Regions from separate parts of the Homo sapiens genome. Here region 1 is reported to be linked to region 2. Evidence: microRNA targets listed by miRTarBase, many of them from high-throughput screens and not tested one by one. Region 2 holds a microRNA gene; the other region holds the end of a gene's coding sequence.

Region 1 (3,300 bases), not on the chromosome of region 2:
ACTAAAAATACAAAAATTAGCCGGGTGTGGTGGCGGGTGCCTGTAATCCCAGCTCTTCAGGAGGCTGAGGTAGGAGAATCACTTGAACCTTGGCGGGGGGGTTGCAGTGAGCCAAGATCACGGCACTGCACTCCAGCCTGGGTAACAGAGCGAGAATCTGTCTCAAAAAAAAAAAAAAGAATTTCTTAGACAAAATTATAACAGTATAGGAAACAAATGTACTAGAAAGAAAATGTCTAAATCTGAATGCATCTGGTAATATTAATTCAGAAGTATAATTCTTTTTTTTGAGACGGAGTCTCGCTCTGTCACCCAGGCTGGAGTGCAGTGTCGCAATCTTGGCAAGCTCCGCCTCCCAGGTTCAAGCCATTCTCCTTCCTCAGCCTCCCGAGTAGCTGGGACTACAGGCACCTACCAGCACACCCCACTAATATTTTGTATTTTTAGTAGAGATGGGGTTTCACCGTGTTAGCCAGGATGGTCTCGATCTCTTGACCTCATGATCTGCCCGCCTTGGCCTCCCCAAAGTGCTGGGATTACAGGCGTGAGCCACTGTGCCTGGCCCAGAAGTATCATTTTTAAAGTCACCATGTTGATTTGGCAATTTTCAATATTTTAATACATTCTCCCAGTAAATAAAAAACAGAGATTGACATTTGTTAGTATACAACTTATTTGAAAAACTCAGTTAAATAGGCTATTTCTAAGAAACATTTTATCCATTTGTATAGAATCCAACTTCTTTAAAAACACAAACACAGTAAATAGATATTTCTCAGAAACAGAAACTTTTGTTTTAATAATACATAATCAAACATAATAACTGAACACATACTGAGAGATTGTATTCAGCTCTATGTGACAGGAAATTTCCAGAGTTTACCTGATAAGCCAGTATTGTCTTTCATTTTCTCATGAAAGGTAAGATTTATCTCACGAAGAATACTAGGTCACAGTAGATGCAGTAGGGAAACAATCCCCTGTGCTTTTTTAAAAAATTATTCTTTATTTATTTATTTTTGAGACAGAGTCTCGCTCTTTCGCCCAGGCTGGAGTACAGTGGCACGATTCCAGCTCACTGCAAGCTTCGCCTCCCAGGTTCACGCCATCCTCCTGCCTCAGCCTCCCGAGTAGCTGGGACTACAGGCGCCCGCCACCACACCTGGCTAATTTTTTGTATTTTTAGTAGAGACGGGGTTTCACCATGATAGCCAGGATGGTCTCGATTTCCTGACCTCGTGATCCGCCCACCTCAGCCTCCCAAAGTGCTGGGATTACAGGCGTGAGTCACCGCGCCCAGCCGCAATCCCCTGTGTTTTTATGGTTGTACCATTGTATCTGTCATGGAAGCAGGAACACAGAAGCACAAGAAATACTGAGACAATGAGGTATTAAGATAATGATAATATGGCCAGGCATAGTGGCTCACACCTGTAATCCCAGCACTTTGGGAGGCCAAGGCGGGCAGATTTCAGGAGTTTGAGACCACCCTGGCCAACATGGTGAAACCCCGTCTCTACTAAAAATACAAAAATTAGCTGGACATGGTGGTGCATGCCTATAGTCCCAGCTACTTGGGAGGCTGAGGCAGGAGAATCGCTTGAAACCGGGAGGCGGAAGTTGCAGTGAGCCGAGATCGTGCCGTTGCACTCCAGCTTGGGCAACATAACAGGACTCTGTCTCAAAAAAGAAAAAGAAAAAAAACCCAAAAAAACCTATTTTCCAATTCCAACCCAGAAGCCAGGTCAAAGAGCAAACAGCAACAGATGAAAAAAATAGTTCCCACGAGACTACACTCCTCCAAGAATTTGCATGCATACGTATTTCTACCAACTACCTATTAGTCCACAAGCAAAATGAAGAAGGATTCTCTGACCAATAGCATAAAGCCACTGAATTACTTGCCTGTATAAGTAGAAAGTATTAACATTAAAAATAGTTTTTCCCTGTAAAATGGAAAGGTGGAATAAAAGTAACATGGTAGTAATATCCAGCTTGGAACACACAGGGCCAGTCAGAAAATGTCAACAAACACCCATATTTCATTGGTCTAATGGCCTCACACGGAGTAACAAAAAAAATATATAAAAATTAAAGTTAATGCATATTAAAATACATCAGATCACCCATGGGTGCAATACACTTCTAAATGAAAAGAGAAACATTAGTAATTTATAAGAAAAAACCATTATGTATCAAAATTTCAGTACTATAGGTGAGAGAGGACTTACAGGATTCTCCCCTCAACTTTACCTGCAAGAGAACTGCAAATTCATTTGCTAGAGGCCCACTTTTAGGATGTGGTCCTGATAAAGGCAATACCATATTTATAAACGTCATGAGATTCTTCTCCTGCCATGAATTTTCTTTTTTTGGAGATGGAGTCTCGCTCTGTCACCCAGGCTGGAGTGCAGTGGTGCCATCTCGGCTCACTGCAAGCTCCGCCTCCCGGGTTCACGCCGTTCTCCTGCCTCAGCCTCCTGAGCAGCTGGGACTACAGGTGCCCGCCACCACGCCCGGCTAATTTTTTGTATTTTTTTTTTTTTTAGTAGAGACGGGGTTTCACCATAGCCAGGATGGTCTTGATCTCCTGACCTCGTGATCCGCCTGCCTCGGCCTCCCAAAGTGCTGGGATTACAGGCGTGAGCCACTGCGCCCGGCCCTCCTGCTGTGAATTTTCTGAACCATGTATGTGAATTAATTTGCACAGGTTTTCCCCCATTACTTAGATGTACAGGATTTCTTTCCTGTGTGACTTCTCACATGACCTTGAAAGGCTTTGGGACAACTGAAAGCTTTCCCACATTTTTCGCATTTACTGGGCTTCTGTCCAATCTGCGTTCTTACATTTTTGGAAGAGCAAAGCCCGCCTGAAGGTTTTCCCACACTGGCTGCATTTACAGGTTTCTCCCCAGTGTGCTTTCTCTCATGTTTGTGTAAAGATGAGGACCAACCATACGTTTTCCCACACGTTTCACATTTATAGACTTTCTCTCTAGTTTGTGATTTGACATCTGTGGAGGGGCGAGGCCTCGCGGAAGACTTTCCCACGCTGCCCCCACTCACAGGTTTCTTTTTAGCATGCGTTCTCGCGTGTTTGTGTAAGGATGAGGGCCAACCGAATGCTTTCCCGCATTTTCCACACTTATAGGGTTTCTCCCCGTTGTGAATTCTCACGTGTCGTTGAAAGGATGTTGCCCAGCAGTAGGCTTTCCCACACTGCTTGCACTCATACGGTCTCCCTCCGGCGTGCATGATCATATGGACTCGAAAGGATTTCTGACACCTGAAGGCTTTCCC
Region 2 (3,300 bases):
CCATGGTCCATGTTCTTAACCTGCATTTTATCATCTTCCCCTAGTGGGGGAAGATGCTGGTGTATTTCCATCTCACGATACAGACCTGGGGAACAGCAGGTGTCAACACTGTTATTGTTCAAGGAGATTGCTCTTTATGGAGACACTTGCATGCTTTAGGATTTTCACTGAGTAAGCATGCATATAATGCTGACTCTATATGGCTTCCAGAATTCACCTTAAAAGGGTCTTACTTGATTTAATGTTAAGTTCTAGGTACCATCAATTTCTCTGAAGTAAGATTTCAAAAGGAAAAAATTTAGTAAGCTAATTCATCTCTAATAAGTCAAATTCTTAGCTTTCTTTATTCTATCTCTCTCTTTCTTTTAAAAAATTCAATGAGTAGCTGGCTTAGGCACAATTTAAATGGCTCATCTATGCCGAATCTTGTACCCGAGGTCAACCAATGAGCCAGGGTCACTTGGGATCCAGGCCAAGATCCCCATTCTCTGTTCGTCACTATGAGCCTAAGATAAAAATTCGTGAGTCCTGTCTAAGCAACAAGGCTTGTAGTCCTCCTATGTATCAAAAGTGCTCTTATCATATTACAAACAACTAACATGCTGAGATTATAAACATCCACAAACGCGGACTTCCTCCAGTATTCTATGTGATGTCATCTGGCCCTTCTTTCATATCCGCTTTTATTATGCTCCTGTCCTTTCAAAACAGACTGTGTGCCACAGTACAACAAAAGCCAGGAAACGTCGGCCCTCTGGCAGCGAGACAGAGCTGGAAACAAGGAGAAACTGATAAAGCAGAAACACCTCCAGATGGAGAAGTAAAGAATCAATCCTGACACAGCAACTCAGCCTGGCGTCTTTAAAGCCGGTATCCCCTTACGCACACCTAAGGAAGGCTCCTGCTCTGCTCCTCTCAAAGTGGAGTTGTTACTGAGTTGTTTTCATCAGTGCAGGTGGACATTCCCCAGAAAACGTCCTCTAGCAAACACTTCTGAGAGTCTGCTAAGTGCTAAGATCTAAAAGCCAATAGGCAGGCCCCTTGTCCTTGGGAGAAGACAAGCCAGTGGCAGAAATCAACAGCCCTGAACAGTAAATCCTTAACAACACCTAATCAGCCACAAACTATGTACACCCAACCTAAGGCTCGTGAGTGAGTCCCACAGCCACCCTTAGTCACTGCTCCATAGGGGCTGGACGGCCAGCAGCTGGGATTTCTGGCTATGGGTGGGAACATGACAGAAAGCAGGGAACACAGAGCTTTGTGCAGGGCGGTGTTGGTCTGACACTCTACTGGGGAGAAGCCCGTCGTCCCGATGACGCCACGCGCTTGGATGTGTTTTAAAATGGGGTTCTGATGCGAAGGCAGCGCTGGCCACCGACCTGCTCAGTGAACACCGGAAGTGGCGGGCGGGCTTCTTTCCCTTCTCTGTCGTGATTCAGTGCTTCCTGTCACCCCCAGCACACCCCTCCCCACCCCTGGGGAAGCCACTGCCAGGAACCAGCTCCCTGACATACCATAAACAGTCAAACACTGACGACGCTCCCTGCTGCCAGGTCACTGAAATCTTTTCCCTTAATAGACAATACTCCTCCTCCTGTTGGGAGCAATCCACAGACGCCGGAACACGAGTCAGAAAGGAACAGAGTCCTCTGAAGTCCCCAGAATCGCATGGCTGAAAACGCCCCGAGAGTACCCAAGGGTCACACTCACACATGCAGAGCCTGAAGCAAGCGAGAAGCTGGGGTTTGCTCTCGGGGAACTTAACAGCCAAGGACATAGAGTGAGCTCGAGACCCTAAAGACTCTCTGTCCCTGTGCAGTTCTTTGTGCTTCGTAATGTCTTCATGAGCTACAGGACTGCTCTCCTTTCTTCCGCAGCTGCCCCAAAAGACTGGATCTTTCTGCCCCTGGGCTAGGAGAAGTACCCTTCAGAAGATGCTGCCAAAGGAACTCCCCAAGGTGGGGAGGGGATGAACCTTAAACATTTTCTTTCTACACTTCCACTCTTCTCAAGTCTTCTCATCCTCTTCCTTTATCTCTTTTTGTTCTTTTACATCTTTAGAATGAAGTCTTTGGAAAGGTGGATTTGCTGTATTTGTAGTCAGCTTACATGAGGACCATGGCCATATCTGTGGCTAGAGTAAATTGTCCTTGGCTGGGCGCGGTGGCTCACGAGGTCAGGACGTCAACACCAGCCTGGCCAAGATGGTGAAACCGCATCTCTACTAAAAATACAAAAATTAGCCGGGTGTGGTGGCGTGCACCTATAATCTCAGCTACCAGGGAGGCTGAGGCAGGGAACTGCTTGAACCCAGGAGGCGGAGGCTGCAGTGAGCTGAGATCAGGCACTCCAACCTGGGCAACAGAACAAGACTACATCTGAAAAAAAAAATTGTCCTCTTAGACTGGACTCTGCAGGGGCACCAGGTGCCCATTGGGTGAGAGGTTCTCAGGCTCTGTGAACCAGGAGGCCCATTTATTATCCACTCTACCTGTCACCCACCCTCAAGGATTCAAGCCATTCTGGCAATGTCATAAACCGCCAGGATGAACCTTCTTCCTTCCAATCAGTGTAAACAGTGTTACTGTTCTATACTGGGTTAGTTACAGGATACATTATGAGTTTATACAGCTTCATGGAGTGCCATTGTTCCATTTCTGGAATGCTTCTGAAGTGCCACAGACTGTCATTATTTGGATGGTCCAGGTTAGCAACTCCTCGGCACCGAGCACCTCTATTTTGACTCCTTCTTTGATTTTTTCCTCCCACCAAGTTTACTGAGCATCTATTATGGTCCCAGGTATTGTGCTAAGACTGAGGATACCAGGTTCAAAGATCAGATTTCCAGAACTGGAAAAGATGAGCAAGATGATTAATTCTGGGAGATCCCAGTCTTTTATTAATGAAGACCTACTTTTGACTCTGTTTTTGTTTTTTTTCCCCTATATCTGAGGCTTGTAGAGAAAGGGGCTGTGCTGCTGGAGGCTGAGGCTGACATGCACTCCCTCTGGCTCAGTCCTCACAATTGGGTCGGAGGCAGTAAACTCGTTTGAGACTGACCGGCCAGGCTTCCAAGGTCAGGGAAGCCCCTGCTCCCACGACATTCTTCCCACGAAAACTGGGTGCTACAGAGATTTTAGGGAACTTCCCTAAGATGAAGCCCCAAATATGCAAGCACCAGTGATTCCCTCCATCCAGGAATCTCATCACGATGCTATTGTGATAACATGCTGCCCCTCCCACACCTACTGTCCATCAGAATTCAGTCCTCTTTTCTCTAAACGAAGGCTTTCTGCA

The links. Region 2 holds the annotated microRNA hsa-miR-8073 (ACCUGGCAGCAGGGAGCGUCGU, at 1,537-1,558, opposite strand). A microRNA usually pairs through its seed, bases 2 to 8, with sites in the 3' UTR of a target mRNA and lowers its output. Matches are read on the target gene's strand: a 7mer-m8 pairs with bases 2 to 8, a 7mer-A1 pairs with bases 2 to 7 and ends in A, and an 8mer does both.
Region 1: the mRNA of ZNF556 is a reported target of hsa-miR-8073. The part of its 3' UTR that is shown has no 7-base or 8-base seed match.

What each region holds. Positions count from the first base shown.
Region 1 is chr19:2,877,751-2,881,050 of GRCh38, reverse strand. It overlaps ZNF556 (zinc finger protein 556), which reads right to left. Exons shown (of 4, transcript NM_024967.3): 4 at 1-3,300. The coding sequence ends at 2,722. Among named protein-coding and RNA genes, the nearest start is that of ZNF556, 12 kb to the right of the region's middle.
Region 2 is chr13:110,339,226-110,342,525 of GRCh38, reverse strand. MIR8073 (microRNA 8073) reads right to left here and starts at 1,568; the gene lies at 1,497-1,568. All of the region lies in intron 3 of COL4A2 (collagen type IV alpha 2 chain), which reads right to left. RefSeq lists an enhancer at 1-323 and a silencer at 1,395-1,464.